Linked DNA regions of Homo sapiens: regions 2 and 3 are each linked to region 1. The links come from fine-mapping of genetic effects on gene expression. A gene starts in region 1. Each other region holds a variant in brackets. All regions are shown on one strand. Distances are between the middles of the regions.

The links. PIP is the estimated chance that this variant, and not a neighbour inherited with it, causes the effect.
Region 2: its variant is the best candidate, but not a certain one, in a credible set for the expression of SLC7A1 in whole blood (INTERVAL, PIP 0.80).
Region 3: its variant is the best candidate, but not a certain one, in a credible set for the expression of SLC7A1 in adrenal gland (GTEx, PIP 0.62).

The regions. Positions count from the first base shown.
Region 1 is chr13:29,591,623-29,597,576 of GRCh38, reverse strand. It overlaps SLC7A1 (solute carrier family 7 member 1), which reads left to right and starts at 1,889. Exons shown (of 13, transcript NM_003045.5): 1 at 1,889-2,161. RefSeq lists silencers at 1,523-2,762, 2,931-3,225 and enhancers at 2,873-3,002, 4,092-4,591, 4,592-5,093.
Region 2 is chr13:29,659,469-29,665,422 of GRCh38, reverse strand. No RefSeq gene overlaps it. Among named protein-coding and RNA genes, the nearest start is that of SLC7A1, 67 kb to the right of the region's middle. The variant G/A (reference allele first, on the strand shown) is at 3,327.
Region 3 is chr13:29,568,929-29,574,882 of GRCh38, reverse strand. The region is part of intron 1 of SLC7A1 (solute carrier family 7 member 1); the gene reads left to right. Among named protein-coding and RNA genes, the nearest start is that of SLC7A1, 24 kb to the left of the region's middle. RefSeq lists an enhancer at 1,412-1,531. The variant G/A (reference allele first, on the strand shown) is at 2,819.

The DNA of each region.
Region 1 (5,954 bases):
TCATTTTTGTATTTTCAGTAGAGACGGGGTTTCACCATGTTGGCCAGGATGGTGTCAATCTGCTGACCTCATGATCTGCCTGCCTTGCCCTCCCAAAGTGCTGGATTACAGGCGTGAGCCACCGTGACAGGCCAGATTTGTTGCTTTAAAACAAAGCATATATGGTGGCTTACTATGATGTCAAGCACTGTTCAAAGCACATTACAAAGCTGGGCAGGATGGTGCTCGCCTATATTTCCAGCTACTGGGGAAGCTAAAGTGAGGCGATCGCTTGAGCCTAGGAGTTCAAGGCTGCAGTGAGCTATGATGTTGCCACTGCACTCCAACTTGGTGACAGAGTGAGACCCACTCTCTAAAACAAAGACAAAAACACATTTTACAACTGCTAAGCCATCTGCATGTGTTCATTAAAACTTTTTCTGGGGACTTTTTCTGGCTCATCCCTGTAGTCCCGATGCTAGGGGAGGTTGAGGCAAAATGATCGCTAGACAGCTGGTATTTGAGGCCAGCCTATGCAACATATCAAAAACCCGTGTCTATATGTAGAAAAAATATTAACTAGGCGTGATGACACAAGCCTGTAGTTCCATCTGCTTGGGAGGCTGAGGCAGGAGGATGGCTTGAGCCTGGGAATTTGAAGTTCCAGTGAGCTATGATTGTACCGCTGCATTCCAGCCTGGGTGACAGAGTGAGACCCCTGTCTCTAAAAAACAAACAAATGACAACAGCAACAACAACAGAACACTTTTTCTGAAGCTAGCACCATGCAGTTATGTACTTTATAAATTGCTAGTCTAATTCCAAGGGAATAGTTCAGCAGCTGATATTTGAGAAGGACCTGTAGAAAGGATTCAAAGACCACGGACACCGTCCACTGTTTTTCTGTTTTCCTATAAGATAGAAGAAGGATGGCATTATTAATTTATGCCCTGTTTACCTATCCCAAGTCCCAGATCACTGGATCTTTAAAGATTATGATTCTCGCTTGGCTTTTGGTACAAAAGGAGACAAGGAGGGAGCTTAAAAGGTGAGCACGGTGTGATTCAGGACTGAAGCTTCTGCCACTTCCTGGGGGGTAACTGCAAAAGTGAGCCGTTCTGACTAGCCGTTTGTGCATTTGCCACTGCCAAGGGGGCACAGGTAGATTCAAGCTTTGGGGCTCTTCTGACAACTGGCAAGGATAAGGTATTAGCAAGGGCAAAGGAATAGTAATAAAATAATCCAATAACAAAGACATGAAGATTTATAATAATTTTTAGGCCGGTGCAGTGTTTCAGGACTGTAATCCTAGGGCGCTTTGGGAGGCCCAGGCGGGAGGATCGCTTGAGGCCAGGATTTCGAGGTTAAGGTGAACTGCGCTCCAGCCTGGGCAATAGAGTAACACCCTGTCTCTAAAATGAAAAGAAAACAGTTTAAACCTTTTAAGTGCATACCAAATCTTTTATTTTGGAGAAGGAAAACTGGTCTCGAGTTCCGTGTGAGCTCCCTGGGGCCCGCCGGGAGGGGGTTGGCACGGCCGGACCTGCAGCACTAGTTCTGGCCAGGGCGCTGTGGGATCTGCAGGGGACCACAGGATGCTGTGGCGCGGTGCGCTCAGATTGGCGGAGAAACGGCCACACGCCTACGGAGCTACTGAGAAGGCGAGCGGAGGCGCAGCCCGCCCGCCCGCCGCGGGAACCCCAGGTTGGGGCGCTGGGCGCGCGAAGACTCAGCCGCCCCGCCCACCAAGGGCGCGTCGGTCCCCGGCCGCAGCCTCTGGGCTGGCAGCCGCCGCCGCGCCGCGCTCCCATTGGTGCCCGGCGGTGACGCGGCCGAGCGGGCCGGGGCTGCCTGGTCCGGGGGCGGGCGTGGGGCGCGGGGCGCGGAGCGCGAGGGGCGGGGGCCGGGCGCACTGCTGATGAAACCTGGCGCCGGAACCCGCCAGCCCTCGGCGCCCATTCAGTCCGCGCAGGCAGGTGTGAGCAGCGGGTCAACTACCTGGCAGGCGCGCACGCGGCCGCGGGCTCCCGCTAACCGCAGCCTCCACTCCTCTCCCCGCGCGCCGCGCCCCCGCCCCGCCCCGCCCCGCCCGGTCTCGCCGGCCGAGCGTCCGTTGGTCCTTGAGCGCGTCCGACAGTCTGTCTGTTCGCGATCCTGCCGGAGCCCCGCCGCCGCCGGCTTGGTGAGTGCCCGGCCCCGCCAACGCAGGGGGCAGCTCCTTGGGCCCGGGTCATCACGGAGGGGGCCCTGGCGCCGCGTGGGGCCGCGGCAGGGCGGCGCGGGAGTGGCGAGGGCCCCCGCGCCGGGAACGCTGCCATCCTCTGGGAAGGGCCAGGACCAGGGCCGGGCGGGCCCCGGAGTGGGCGAGCGGGGCTGGTGCCCATGCGACTGTCGCCTCCACGGAGTCCATTTTGGCTCCCTGAAACCGCGGCGTGGTGCATGATGCAACACCGAGTGAGTAAGCGTGGGCGATCTGGCGATGCCCGCTCCGCGCGCCTGTCCGGGGACCCGCGCGCCGCTACGCACGGGGTGGTCGGGGTGCGTAGGCGGGCGGCGGGCACGGGGGCCAGACTGGGAGGCACACGGAGCCCGCCGGCGGCGAGGAGACCTTCCCTTACATGGCGCGGTGCAGAGCACCCCGCCCCGCCACGAGGTCCGGGGATGTGTCATCAGCCGTGGGTGGGGACTCTGCCCGGCCGCCCGGAGGGTGGTCCCGCGGCAGGTGGCCGGCCCAGGGACTCTGCTGCCATCCCCGCCCGGTGGCCGCCCTGACCTAGGGCGCCTGGCTCTCCGCTTGTCCCTAGAACCCGGGACGCGCCGCCTGCACCTCTCGTCTGGGTCCCCAAGATTGCTTTGAGGAAGTCTCCCCTAGGTGGGCTTCCTTGTGACCCAGTGTGGCCTGGAAAGGCCGGGTTCCTCAAGCCCTCCACATGGTTTGGAATGAGAGGAAGTTCTTCCGCCTTTAGCAAGACACCGTATTCTCAGGGTGTTCCTTTCTGCGTAGTAGAAAACTTCCCAGGCATGGGCAGGTCAGAGTCATTCTAAAACCTGCGCGTACACAGAGCGGCAGCTGCACTGTAGTACTACAACAGCCTGCTGGTTCAGCTCCTGACCCTTTCCAGGGGATGGGGGAACCAGACAGCAGTTGTGTTTGACTTGTGTGACTAGGATAGTCAGACATGTGCCTTCAGGAAAAAAATAAATAAATAACCTACATTTCCCAATACTCACGTCATCACCGCCATGCCCTCATGTGTTGGGTTTTAGTCCAGACATAGTTACCAGATGGTTGAGATTTCAATCCCAGGTGTATCTCCCTAAAGAATGTGCCTTTTATCTTACTTACATTCGACTAGTAGAATTGTGTATGTCGGCCTCTGGCCGAATGCCCTAATTGTATTTAATTCGAATTATAATTTATCTGGGATTTTTCCTAACATTTCTTGCCCTTTATGTTTGGTTCAGATAATAGGAAACCATGATACATTTATTCCTCTGGTATTTTTAGTTGATCTCAGTGGAAATTACCATGATTTTTATATGAACACACCCTCCTGTTATTAAAACAAAAGGTCTTATTTAAGTCACACGAACAGAATAGAAACTTAGGGGAAAGGTCAACAATAGATTAAAATGGTTTTAAAAATAGGTTTAGCATATTACGATCATGTTTAATTATTATAAAGGTAAAATTCAAAGGATGTCAAAGGAGTTTTGAGTAAAGAGGAAAGGGCTTAGTAAGTAGATCAGAAATGTACTCCCTTGTCTGGGTCTGGATCCTAGAGCCACGTGCTCCTGTACATATGATTACTTGCTTTAGGTGAAAAAAAAAAAGAAAGGCTTGAAAGACAAGACTGTTGACTTCAGGGAGTTACAATTTTCTATTTGGTAGAAGAACTCATTCTTTGATGGAATTAAATACGTGTTGATTGATTATTCTGGTCTGTAGTTTATTTTAACCAAAGTCCATACAAATAGATAATTATGTTGGAGGGCTCAGAATTATGTCCAATTAAATTAATCCTTTCTCATTATCAACCATGTATTTGGAGGGATTGCTATTAATCCTAGGGACAAATTTGAAATGTGAATAAGTGCATCCTTGTTATGGAGAAAAATATTGTTTCCCTCTAACCTTGGAGATACTTGAGTCTCGGAGTTATCTCTTCCAGAGGCATCTTCAGAGATGCCTATCACTCCACCTGCCTCTTGGTCCTCACTCCAAGCAAGACCTTCCGATAGGATGTGGTGTTTTTCTGTATAGTTGGCCCCTGCAGACCTGGATAGATTTTAAAGGCAGATCCAATAGGATTGGCCGGTGGATTCATGGAAGGACGAGAAAGGTCAAATATGACTCCAAGCACATCGGAGTTGCTGTATTAATGAGATGGGAAGGCTGAGCAAAGAACGTGTTGGATGGAAGAGGGACTTTTTGAAAGTCACAACTGACCTTTTTAGAACTCTTATCCCCAGGGTCAGGGCTGGAAGATGTATCTTCTTGGGGCCCCTCTCAGGTGCCTGCCTGTGTGTTGCAGCCACCCGTCCAGGCTGCTGGCCTCCTTCCCCTTCACCTAGCTTTACTGGCTCCTCTCGCCAAATCTGGGGGGTCTCTTCAGCCTCTGTCTCCTTGCTGCCCATGGCCTCCCTTTGCTCCCCTGCCGCCTTCTAGTGGGCCGCCTGGTGGTGGACTTGTCCTGTGGGATGGAGACCCTCCATACATGGGGTTCAAAGGTCCTGGGGTATTCCTGGATCTTCAGGACATCTGCCTACCCTCAGGTTTCCCAGGCCTCGGGTGGGGAGGCATCAGATCCCTGGCCAACCTGCTATCCACCCCAGGGTTTAGACCTCTCTTCCCGTGAGGGAACAGAGTAGTAGCTTCATTTGTGGCAGATTATCTGCCTTGTGATAAACTTTAGTGGCCTCCCTTTCTGTTTTGCCATAATCTGCCTCCTCCCCCACTCCCATACCCATCTACAAAGCAGCCTTGAAAATAACCACCCCTGTGGTTCAGTGTGGGTCATGATCTGTCAATCCAGGCTTAGTACATTTCCAAATGGAATTACCAGAAGGATGGGCATCAAACTGGGAAAATGATTTGGTGGCTTGCTAGCCGTGTTCCTTTTTCTCCCAAGGCATTCGTTCAGATGTGCAGTGTTGGCAGACCCAGGGGATGCCATTTACCTGGCCCACTGGTCGAGATTTGGTCATCCCAGGAACTTGGGCTTCAGAAAAGATGTTTCTGGGCTTTGGACCAGATTCTGGCTGGTCTGTGGTTTGCCCCTCCTGCCACACCCAGTGGCTTTCATTGGGCTTTTTTCCTCTAGTTATTGTCAGGAACAGTGGGGAATGGCAGGTATTGCATTTGGTGAACACACTGGATAACTGGAATCAGAGCCGTGTGACTGAGGGAAGAGGCCTTCACAGCTTCAATGCAGAATGGGATGATTATCTGCCCTGAAACGAAGGATGCTTCTTTGAGGGGAGTTGGGACCAATACTGGGAACAGCACCGCTCCTGGCTTCTCTGGCTTTGCTTCTCTCTGAAGTAATTTAGACTTCGTGAACCTTACATACTGGCTCCATCTGTATATTGGGAGAGCCTGTCCCTCTCAGCCTCACAGTAGTGAAGTTAGGAAGCATGGAGTCCACAGTGTTCTTTGAAAGAATCAAGGCACCAAGTCCATGCATTTACATTTCTCTCTTGAGATCAGTCCTTTTGTTAGCAGCCTGCAATTCTGACCACGGCAACCAAAAATTTCTGACCGTGGCAACCAAAAATCAAGCGCGAGGAAACCTGGGGGTTTATTTGGAGGTGGGAGAGGATGTCCCTTCTTCTGGTAGGACTATGTCTGGCTACATTGTCTTTCCATTTTTTTCTGATTGTCCCCTTGCCCCCCTCCCTTTTCTGGGGGCACAGAGGGCATGGCAATTTTGTTTCCTAGCTTTCCATATTCCTACTGCAGTGCTTTCTTCAGA
Region 2 (5,954 bases), 68 kb before region 1:
CTGCACCCACTGTCTAACTAGTCCCATTGAGATCAACTGGGTACCTCGGTTGGAAATGCAGAAATCACCCACCTTCTGCATTGGTCTCACTGGGAGCTGGAGACCAGAGCTGCTCCTATTTGGCCATCTTGCCCAGGAGTCTGGGGTGTATTCTTACAGATATTTTAAAATGTGTTTACATAGATACCAACATAGGCAAAAATAGAAGTAAACAGTTTTGTGTAGATTTTTAAATTTAGCATAGTATATTACATAACATGGTATTTCCCAACAATATGCTTTTTAAATTTAACAGTATATGTCTTAGATATATTTCAGTGCTCATATATATTGATCAAGCTTTTTAAAAATTGCCACAATGAGCCATAGTATAAAAGTATAACAGATTATTTAACCACTCTTAATAGACATTTAAGTTGGTTTCCAATTTTTTCACTGCTACAATCAATATTTCAAGTTTATATGCAAGTATTTCTCCACATTAGATAACTAGAAGTGGATTTTTGGATCATCTGGTATGTATATTTAACATTTTAATTTCTACTGCCATGTTGTACCTCAAAAGAGCTGTGCCACTTATAATGCAGGAAAATACTGTTTCCCCACTTCCTCATTAATGCTTGCTAAGATCAGTCTCTTCCGTTTTTGCCAAACTGATGGGTGGAAGTGATATCTCATTGCTGCTCTAATTTGCATTTCTCTGATTGCTTTGAAATTGAGGATCTTTTCCTTCCATTGCTGGTCATTTGCATGTTTTCCTCTAAATTGTCTTTTCAGAATCTTTGTCCACTTTTCTTTTGCATTTTCTCTTACTGATCTGTAGGAATTGATTATATATTCTGTATATTCATTCTTAGTCTCATATTATATATGTTGCAAATACCTTCTTGCACCATTTATTTTCCAACACCATTTATTGAATTTTTTACTTACTGGTCCCAAGTGCGACCTTTGTCATTTACTAAATTTCTATATATACATAGGTCTGTTTCTAGACTCTAAATTATGTTCCATTGATTTCTTTATTTCCCCCCTTATGTCACACTTTTTAAATTATTATAACTTATAGTGTACTTTGATAGCCTCCTTAGTCTCCTATTTCAAAATAGACTTTGCTGGTCTGGTACATGTTCTCTTCCAAATAAAAATGTAAAACCATTTGACATGTGTTGTAAGATTTGAGATGGGGAGGAGGTTTTGAGTGGTATTGCAAAGAATTTATAGATTAATTTGGGGACAATTGACCTTTTTAAAATATTGAGTCATCCAAATTAGGAACGTGATATAACTCTCCATTTATTCAGTTTTTTCTTTAATAAGTTTTTTTTATCCTTATGAGTGTTATATTTTGCTTATTATTCCTAGGAATTTTAGAGGTTTTTTTTTTTTTTTTTTTTTTTTGAGACGGAGTCTCGCTCTGTTGCCCAGGCCGGACTGCGGACTGCAGTGGCGCAATCTCGGCTCACTGCAAGCTCCGCTTCCCGGGTTCACGCCATTCTCCTGCCTCAGCCTCCCGAGTAGCTGGGACTACAGGCGCCCGCCACTGCGCCCAGCTAATTTTTTGTATTTTTAGTAGAGACGGGGTTTCACCTTGTTAGCCAGGATGGTCTCGATTTCCTGACCTCATGATCCACCCGCCTCGGCCTCCCAAAGTGCTGGGATTACAGGCGTGAGCCACCGCGCCCGGCCATTTTAGAGGTTTTATTGGTGGTGTAAATGCAATTATTTTTTCAATTTCTAATGGTTTTGGTAAGCAAATTGAGAAGCTATTACTTTTCATATGTTGATTTTATATGCATTCACATTCACATTTATATGTTAAATAGGGTTTTAATTTATTTTCTTGGACTTCATGGGTAGATAATTATATCATTCTAAATCAAATACATTTTTGGTTTTTCTTGTCAATATTCATGTTTTTGTTTTTTCCTTATCACATTGGCCAAGGATGTCCAGCACAGTGAATGACGCAGCAGCCTTTCCTTGTTCCATTAATAGTAATGCTTCTAATTTTTCATCATTTATTATGGTATTTGCAATAGGTTTCTGTCATATATACCTATTACATCAGACTCCAAATAAGAAATTGATAACATTTTGAAATAGCATAATCTGAGAAGAGTTTGTTTATAAAGAGTAGATCCTCATTATTCACGATTCTATATTTGCAAATTTACCTACTTGTTAAAATTTATTTGTAACCCTATTACCAATAACCACCTTACTTTCTCAGTAATTCATGAACATTAATACACAGAATGGTGAAAAACAAATGGAGTCACCAAAGTGCATCTTCCTAGCTGATGTCAAACAAGGCGACATCTGCCTTGTTGTTTAAGCTCTCATAAGTAAGCATGCATTTTTTCGTGGTTTATCTAGTACCACATGTTTTGAATTTCTGTGCTTTTTCTTGTGATTTTTCTGTTTAAAATGGCCCCGAAACACATTGCTGAGGTGCTGTCTATTTAGTGAAAGAAGTTGTTGACGAAAAGAGTCAAACTCTGTAAAATATTTTAAGAGATTTATTCTGAGCCAAATATGAGTGACCATGGCCCATGACACAGCTCTCAGGAGGTCCTGAGAACATGTGCCAAGGTGGTTGGGGTATAGCTTGGTTTTATATACTTTTGGGAGGCATGAGACATGAATCAAAACATTTAAGAAATACATTGGTTTGGTTCAGAAAGGTGGGACAACTCAAAGTGGGGGCTTCCAGGCTATAGGTAAATTTAAACATTTTCTGGTTGACAATTTGTTGAGTTTACTGGAAGACCTGGGATCAATAGAAAAGAAATGTTCAGGTTAAGATAAAGGATTGTGGAGACCAAGTTTTGTTGTGCAGAGGAAGCTCTCAGATAGCAGACTTTAGAGACAGCAGATTGTAAAATGTTTCTTATTGGACTTAAAAGCGTGCCTGACTCTTGGTTGATTATCTCCTGGATTTGGAAAGGAAGGAAGGAAAACAAAGGGGATTCTCTATAGAATGTAGATTTTCCCACAAGACACTTTGCAGGGCAAGTTTAAGATATGGCAGAGAAACATGTTTTGGAATAGAACATTTTGATTTTCTTTCTTGTTATTCCAGAGTTACATTGGAAAATAAATCACGATATACAAGGTTAAATAAAACCCATCTGATGAGAATTTGTGGTTTGTAGGACATGATTCCCCAGACTCCTTAGATAGGAGTTTCTGCAAGATAAAAAAAAAAAGTCAGAGTTTAGTCCTCAAAGGCTATGATGTGCCTTAAGGAGAAAATAGGTGTGTTGGAGAAGCTTCATTCAGGCATGAGTTATAGTGCTGTTGGCTGTAAGTTCAATGTTAAT[G/A]AGTCAATGATATAGATTAAATATGTGTAAGAAACACATAGAAAGCAAGGTTATGTATCAATTGGTTAATGAAAATATTTGACCAGAGGCTCACAGGTACCTAACCTTGTATTTCCTCTAGGAGTGATGATTTGGTATTTGTTAATTCAGTGTTTGTAATGATTTTGTAGTACACATCTACCTCCAATAACAAGAATTTGCTGTATTGACAAAGGTTCAGGTAAAGGGTACCACAAGGGATAGAGAAGCAATCCAGGGCTCAGGAGCAGCTGCACTTCCAACACCTCTAAGGGAGAGGGTTGAGGAGGGAACACGTGCCAGAACGCAGAAGGAAGAGTCTGTGGAGTCCACTGCCTTGAGAGCTCCAGCAACTACTCAGGTGACCTTGCAGGGAGGAGATCCAGAAACAAATACCCTGACCCACTCTCCTCTTTCCTCCAGCTTCTTGGTGAGGTTCCTGTTAGTTTCAGGAGGAAACCAGAGGACCCACCAGGAGAGTAGAAACCTTTGCCAGGGTCTCTGCAGATGAATGAAAACTGGAACTTACGGGCCCAGGGAATACAGCCAGCATGGTACATCAGTTGAAGGAAGGGTCTGTATATTCCCAACTTACTAAAGAGCCTTTATTTTTCTTTAAAAAAAAAAAGGAATTGTTGAATTTTATACAATTATTTTTCAGCATTTATAGTTTCTCCTTTAATCTGTTAAGGTTAGTATTATATTAATAGATTTTCTAATGTGAAGCTACCTTCAATTACTGGATAATTTAATTTGACTACCTTGTCTTATCTTTTTAATAACTTGAGTCAGTTTGTTAATGTTTTATTTTGGATTTTTTTTGAAGGGACGGTCAATTGCGATTGAAATTGGCCTCTAGTTTTCCTTTCTAGTTTTAGTACCATGGTAAATCTAGCCTCCAAAAATTATGTTAGAAGATTTCCATTTTTTCTACTCTGTAATAGTTTTTATAATGTTGGAATTATCTCTTCCTTGAATAATTTTTAGAACCCAACACTTTCTGAGCAATTTCTTCTTACAGTTTTATCAAATTTCATTTTCTTCCTTTACTTTTTCTTTATTATATTATTCTTTAATCCCCCAAAATGCATGCAGTAATATGCACAACAACTTTAAAGTAGACATACAAAGTAAAGATGCTCTCCTTGTTCTTGCTGTGTTACTATCCACTAAGATGACCAATATTGATATCTTGGGTGCATCCTTTCCCACCCTGCTCCACACTCATTCAAATGTACACAAATAAGTAAAGTGTGTGTGTTTTTTAATGGATCACATTATACACATTGTAAAAAGTAAAGTAGAGGTTCCTCTTCAAAGACTTTCCTCCCCATTTAATTAGGAATAAATAGTAACTTCTTTTAGAAGCAAAATTTATTCAAAGACCTGTGCTAACATTCTTAAATATCTGCTAGCCATGATAAAGAAATCAACGTTCTTTAGTTCTTAGCTCCCACAATTTAGCTTAAATATTTGTCCTGTCATGCTTATACTAGTCCAAGCCAGCATTAGGTCATAGCCTGTTCCTCTTCCTTATTTGAAGGTGTTTTTACCTTTCTCAGCATTCCACAAGTTACTTCCTCCTTCCTTTGTTCTCCTCTACCTTTGCCTCTTTTAAAAAGTTGTAAGTTGCTAGCCAATCGGGACAAATACAGAATGTGAGGTCCTGTTCCAGCCAATGGAAACCAGACACAGCAGTAGAGTGGACACATCAGGTTATAAATGACCCTGTCTCCTTTGTTCAGTGTACTCTCATGGCAAAACTGCTGGCGAGTGTACCCTTTCTGCAGAAAGTATAAAAATGGCCTTGCCGAGCAAATTAAATTTAATGTTCAAGTGCTGTTTCTTTACAGCACTGGGGAACAAGCATTTCAAACAACATTATTCTGCAATTTCTTTTATTCTCTGCAACTAGTATATAATTAATATCCTTCCAGGTAATACAGATAGTGTAACTCATTGTGTGTAATAGCTGCCTAATAGTCCATTGTATGAACACACCATGGGTTAATTGCACATCCACCATTCCTTTATAGATGGAGAGTTAGGCTTGCTTTCTCTTTTCTTTTCTTTCTTTCTTTTTCTTCCTTCCTTCCTGCCTGCCTGCCTTCCTTCCTTCCTTCCTCCTTCCTTCCTTTCTTTCTTTCTTTCTTTCTTCCTTTCTTCCTTTCTTCCTTTCTTCCTTTCTTTCTTTCTTTCTTTCTTTCTTTCTTTCTTCTTTCTTTCTTCGAGACGACGTCTCACTGTTGCCGATGCTGGAGTGCAGTGGCACAATCTTGGCTGAATGCAACCTCTGCCTCCTGGGTTCAAGCAATTCTTCTGTCTCAGCCTCCTGAGTAGCTGAGACTACAGGTACTCACCACCACACTTGGCTAACTTTTGTATTTTTAGTAGAGATGGGGTTTCACCATATTGGTCAGGCTGGTCTTGAACTCCTGACCTCCAGTGATCTGCCTGCCTTGGCCTCCCAAAGTGCTGGGATTACAGACGTGAGCCACCACGCCCAGCCCTTTTTGTTGTTGTTGTTACTACAAATATTGTCTCTGTAAATATCTTTGTATACCAGTACTTTTATTTTTATAAAATAGATTCTGAAAAAAGTGGGATGAC
Region 3 (5,954 bases), 23 kb after region 1:
CACGAGGTCAGGAGATCGAGACCATCCTGGCCAACATGGTGAAACCCCGTCTATACTGAAATACAAAAAAATTAGCCAGTCATGGTGGCGCGCACCTGTAGTCCCAGCTACTTGGGAGGCTGAGGCAGGGGAATGGCGTGAACCCAGGAGGCGGAGCTTGCAGTGAGCCGAGATCGCACCACTGCACTCAAGCCTGGTGACAGAGCAAGACTCCGTCTCAAAAAAAAAAAAAAAAAAAAGCATTAGCTGCTCCAGTGAGTGCTACGAAATGTTAAGGTTTACCCTAGACCTTGGCTTTCCATTTTTATGTAAGATTTCAAATTTCAAAACAGGCTCTTTGAGAAGACAGCCTCCATTCATGTATTCATGTGTTCCACAGGTATTGGGTGAGCTCCTACAGGTGCTGGCACTGACTTTCCCAGGTTCTTGCCCTTATGGGCCATAACTCCCACAGATGAGTTCGTGTTCTTGTTCACGTGAGCACTAGGCAACATTAAGCGTCAGTGATATTTGGTGAAAATTAATAAAAAATGTACTTTCAGCTCTGAATGGGGAGCTCTGTAGGCCTTTCTGGAAGTTGCAAGGCATCTCCCACAGCTAGAGTGATAACACAGGCAGTTGGTCAAGAACCCTGTTTTTTAATGATTAAGTGAATGAAAGAGAATGTCACACTCTTACCATCTATCTTCATCCCTTTGTAAACTAAGCTCCTACTATTCTACTAAAACTGCTCACAATTTCAATTTCCTCTCTCTTGAATTAGACAATATCCTGATTTTGTCTCAGTCCTCACCCCCTGTGGTGTCTCTGAAACATTTAATACGATTGGCCATTCCTTTCTACAGATTCTCTAATTTTCTGGGTCTGTTGAAGGAGGCTTTCTTTGTTTTCAGCATGTGAGAGAGCTTGTCAAAGAATGGAGTCATTGCTTGTTAGTAGCTGGGTACGCAGAAATGCCTGTGGAAGTCAGGGTTCATGGTCTGCGGCTAGAAAGGTGCTGGGCAAAGGGGAGGTGTTCAGGCCTGAGGCCTGAGCTGTCAGTACCAAACCAGGGTTACCAGGTTTAGCAATAAAAATACTGGATGCCCAGTTAAATTTGAATTATAAATAAGCAATGGATACTTTTTTTAGTATAACTTTTTTATACTAAAAGATTATTTGTTGGCAATATTTGGGACATCATTGTGATATATTTGGGGCATACTTACATTAACCAATTATTGGTCATTCACATGAAATTTAGATTTAACTGGGCAGTCCTGTATTTGATCTGACAGCTCTTTGCTAAGTTACCATCCAGTCACATTGTCTTTTGTGGCTCCTGGTGCACTTTGAAAGGGGACGATGTGGGCCTTAAGGCAGACACACAGAGTCAGACACTCTCTGGCTTTAGAGAAGTCCGTCTGCCTTTGGACTCTAGAATTGCACCTCCCCATCATCTGTGTGCTACTTCCTCCTTCAGCTGCCAGAGTGTGGTGTTCCCCGCGATTCTGGTAACAGCTGCCTTCTTTTCTCCCAGGGATCTCACTCCCGGCAACACGTGCCTCTGGGTGTGCTCCACATCCAAGTTCCTCGTTTCAGATTCTCACAGCCCCACCTGCTTGCCAGATAGTTCTATCTGTTCTGTTGGACACAGGACATGTGGCAAGACTGCTTTTTGATCCGAGGATATTTTGACTGTCATTTAGGAATATAAATATTTTATCAGATATATGTCATCACCAAAGAATTTTTTGATGACAATATTGTCCTGAGTGACCTTCAGTTTAAATCATTGTGTTTTTAGAGCACAAATAAACCATTTACATTTTTCATGTTTCGTGACATTATTCTCTCCAGGATAGATTATTTGCTATCTGCATTTTCAAGAAAGGTTTCTTGTATTTACCAGCCACTTGTCTGTGGCAGATCTGACAGCTTTGAGCTTCTGTCTCTGTTTCTCCTGGACCACTTATCCCTTCCAAGTGGAGTTTTCCTCCATCAAATTGTGCAGCTTTAGATGTTGATTACCATGTTGAGTTGGCCCTTGCGGTTGTGTGTGTTGGCTGCTTCTGGTTGGTGTGGTTGGTGTGCACAGTCCCATGCAGGTTTCCCAGGATCACCTTCCCCGCCCAGTGCTGGTCAACTGTAGTGCTCGTGCCCATGTTTTATGAGCTTCTGATCACTTTGTAGATTACAAACTAGGGCAGAGAACGACTGGGGGAACCAGAGCGGTAGGGCCACAGTGCCTTACTGAGGGCCACCCTCAGCTCAGATTCAGTGCTTCCAAATCCAAGTTTAGGATTTCAGAGTTACCTTGGGCTCATTCCCTTCATATTGATGATAACTGATGGCATCCGGCCAGTCCTTCCTCCCCTGCCCCTCACATGGTCTTCTTGCTTTTCGTTCTAGTCCCACGCCCTGGTGCCGCGGGTCCTGAGTGTTTCTTCCCACTCCCCACCCTCTGTCTTTCCAGCATCCTCCTGGGTGGCCTCTGTACTTTTTCTCCCCTGTTAAATTACACTGGCACCTGCCCCTTTAGGTGGCGCCTGCCATTATTGACAGCGTGTGCGTGGAGTAGAAAATCCAATGAGTGACTCTTGTGTGAAGCGTCCTGGCTCTGCCCTGAGGGCTGGGGGGCCCGCACTGGTCCACTGGGCTTCTCTGGGCACAGATGTGACTTGGTGTGGGACCAGATGGCCTAGACAGCGTGTCGCACTTGGAGTCGTGCTTGGGACCCACAGGCGGCCGCTGCACCCTCACCACCTGCGTTTTGGGGCAGTGTCATGCATGCCACAGGCAGCCTCAGACCTGGGCATTGGTGCCTCCTTGGCCACTG[G/A]CCATCAGGCCTGCTTCCCTTGTGACATTTCACTTTGACCTTTCCTTTGAAGGTTTTTGAAGCAACACTGTACACGCAAAGGTCAACAAAGAAGAGTGGATGATAGGTGGACAGAAATGTAAGTTAAAAGGCAGGAAGTGAGGCTGCTTAATACAAGCAGGTTGGAGGGGATGAGCAAAACAAAAAATGCCCTTGAAATGATTCTTTAATCATTTGTCTTTAGAGACGTAAAGCGGGATATGGAAAACAAACATTTCCATTCAATGTATACACAGTTTGCAAAACAAATAACTGGGCTTTGTGAGTGTCCAGACCTCCTGGAAGGAGGAAAGCGGCTCTGGACTGGGCAATCCTTTTCCGCCTGAGTTCAGAGTGGAAGAAATTGGAGAAGCCGCCCCTCTGGTGGAATAGGTAAAGCAAAAGCCTTTCATTTCCTTAATGAAGTGTAATGCTTCCAAATTTGGCCCAAAAGCCAAACTGAGATGGAAAGGCCTCTGGGTGAGCGGGACTATCCATGAGTGAGGACCCCCCGGCAGATGTCTGATGGTCACTTCATTGCGATCTAGAAAGGCCACAGCCATGGCCAGCTCTTCACCACCCTGCATTCAGGCACCGCCAAGGGCTTTGGTGGTTGATGCTATAGAGCCTGGGACCTTTACATGTTTAAATGTTTTAAAATTAAAATCGGCCATAAAATGTCATTATGTTATGTTTTTATAATTTTCCCATTTTGTTTATGTTTGTAATAGTTTTAAGTCAATTTTAATATTTCTGGGCAACAGCCCTCAAGTCTTCCACCATCTGAATCAGGGCAGATGGAAATACATCAAACAATAACCTTATTTTATTTTTTAAACTGTATATTTGTATAGTACTTTGGTGATTACAAAATACAATTTTTGCTATTTTAATGGCAAAAACTGCAATTATTTTTGCACCAACCTAATACCTTCATATGGTATGGCAAAAACAGTTATCATTTTGGGTACTTAATCTTCACAGCACTTTATAAGTTGGCTACTAATGAGATGTCTTATACATTAAGAAACTAATAATAGTAATATAGTTAACATATAGCGCATACTATGCACCAGGTGCTCTGCAGTGCTTTACATATATAAATTCATTGAAACCTCCTCATCTTGCAAAGGAGAAAAGGGAGACTCAAAGAAATTAAATAACTTGCCCATCTTTTTTTTTTTTTTTTGAGACAAAGTCTCTCTTTGTTGCCCAGACCCAAGTGCAGTGGCATGATCATGGCTCACTGCCACCTCTACCTCCCTAGGCTCAAGTGATCCTCCCGTCTCAGCCTCCTTGGTTGCTGGGACTATAAGCACAAGCCACCATCTCTCGCTAATTTTTTTTTCCTGTATTTTGTAGAGACTTGGTTTTGCTATGTTGCCCAGGCTGGTCTCCAACTCCGGGGCTCAAGCCATCCATCCGCCTGACTTGGCCTCCCAAAGTGCTGGGATTATAGACGTGAGCCACCGTGCCCGGTCCCATCATGTTTTGAATCCAGTTTAACCTGAGAGTTTAACTTCTATCTGTCTCACTGTCTCTTGAGCCTCACAGGAGGAACAAGATGGAGGTAGGGGGGCGGGTGTGGGTGACACTGTCATTATCCCCGCTTCAGATGGTAGAACTGAAACAGCAACATAGCGTAACTTGTTCAAGTTCACACAGCGAGGGCAGGGCTTCTGATTCCTCATCAGTTCCGTGAGCAAATATGAAATGGGACATGGAAAGAATTTTTCTATTCAATGGCAAGTCAATAACGTTGCTTGATGCAAACTGCTAGGCCTTTGTACCCAGGCACGTGGCAGGCCGTGGCCTCCTCCTCCATGCTGAGTTCGGGGCAGAGGAGGTTCAGCAGAGGGACCACTGCACATAGCAGAGCAGCCATTCGTTTAATGCCAGAGGAACATGTGAATGAGCTTCCCCAGGATTCACAGGCAGGTGGGGAGCTGCTAGGTAATTTCACCTGCTGGCCCACCCAGGTAATGTGATTATGTGAATGTGGCATTCAGGGAGTTCTGTATGATGTTAGAAAACTTTTGTTTCTGGTTCTGTTTTTCTTTTAATTTGTGTAATGTGACCAGGACGTCTGTGGCCAGGCTAGCCAGCAGCCGTGTGCTTTGTTTGCTGGTTGGAGCCTGGCCAGCCATGGAGGTGGATCTGCGGGCCTTTGGGGCGACTCCTGCCTCAGCCTCCTAGAGCTCTGATAAGCACCGCTGAAACTCTTTGAGGTTCAGTGTTCTCATTTATGAAATGAGGACTGATGGTTGCTTTTCTAGGTATGTGAAAGACCTAGCACAGTGTCTGCTGCATACCAGCTGCTCAGATGTTATTGCATTACATTGAAGAATTTTTTAAAAATCTGTCTTGATAGTGCAATGTGTTGTTGTAACCTATCACTAGACTCACTGTGGGTACTCTTGAGAATGGGCTAGTGGTGATTAATCTGGTGTCCTTAGGAGCTCGATTTAGAAGGAGGAGGGCTATCATGTGATTATTGCAGCCCCCGCCTCATGAGGTCAAGCCCTCACACTTGCAGTGGGCCTGGTAGCTGCAGACATCCAGAGCTCACTGCCCCTAAGGCTGTTGCCATCAGGGGCCCTGCAGGGAGCAGAGTGCATTCTCAGGATGGGCAGTTTGAGGTGAGTTTAAATAAAGTGACTTTTTACAAAGGCAGGGCAGGGGGTTCACAGCCTGGAGTAGTGAGGGGGCCCTAACCACTTCTAACACCCTCAACCTGAGGGGAAGGGATGGTTTTGAGGCTGCACCTGGCTTGGTGAAGGGCCGATCTCCAATGAGACAGCCCGCAGAGAGGGTCCTCCTTCGCCTCACTCCTCCCTGCCAGTGCCCAGAGAGCTCGGGATGCATACAGGTGGGCCTCGTAGTGGGGAAGGCAGGGAGTGGCTCTGGGGGCAAACAGGATGCGATTTCAGACATGGGGCAGAGAGCCAGGTGCCCTCGGCTGAGCTGAGGACAAAAACAAGTCAGATGAGTTGTGCAGCCCACATTTTTCTTTGCTTTAGATAGGAGTCCGTTCTTAAAATGGAATCAAAGTGACTGGACAGAGACCCGTTTTGATGAATTTAAGCTGGTGGCTTGTTGGGTAATCTTCCTTCGCTTG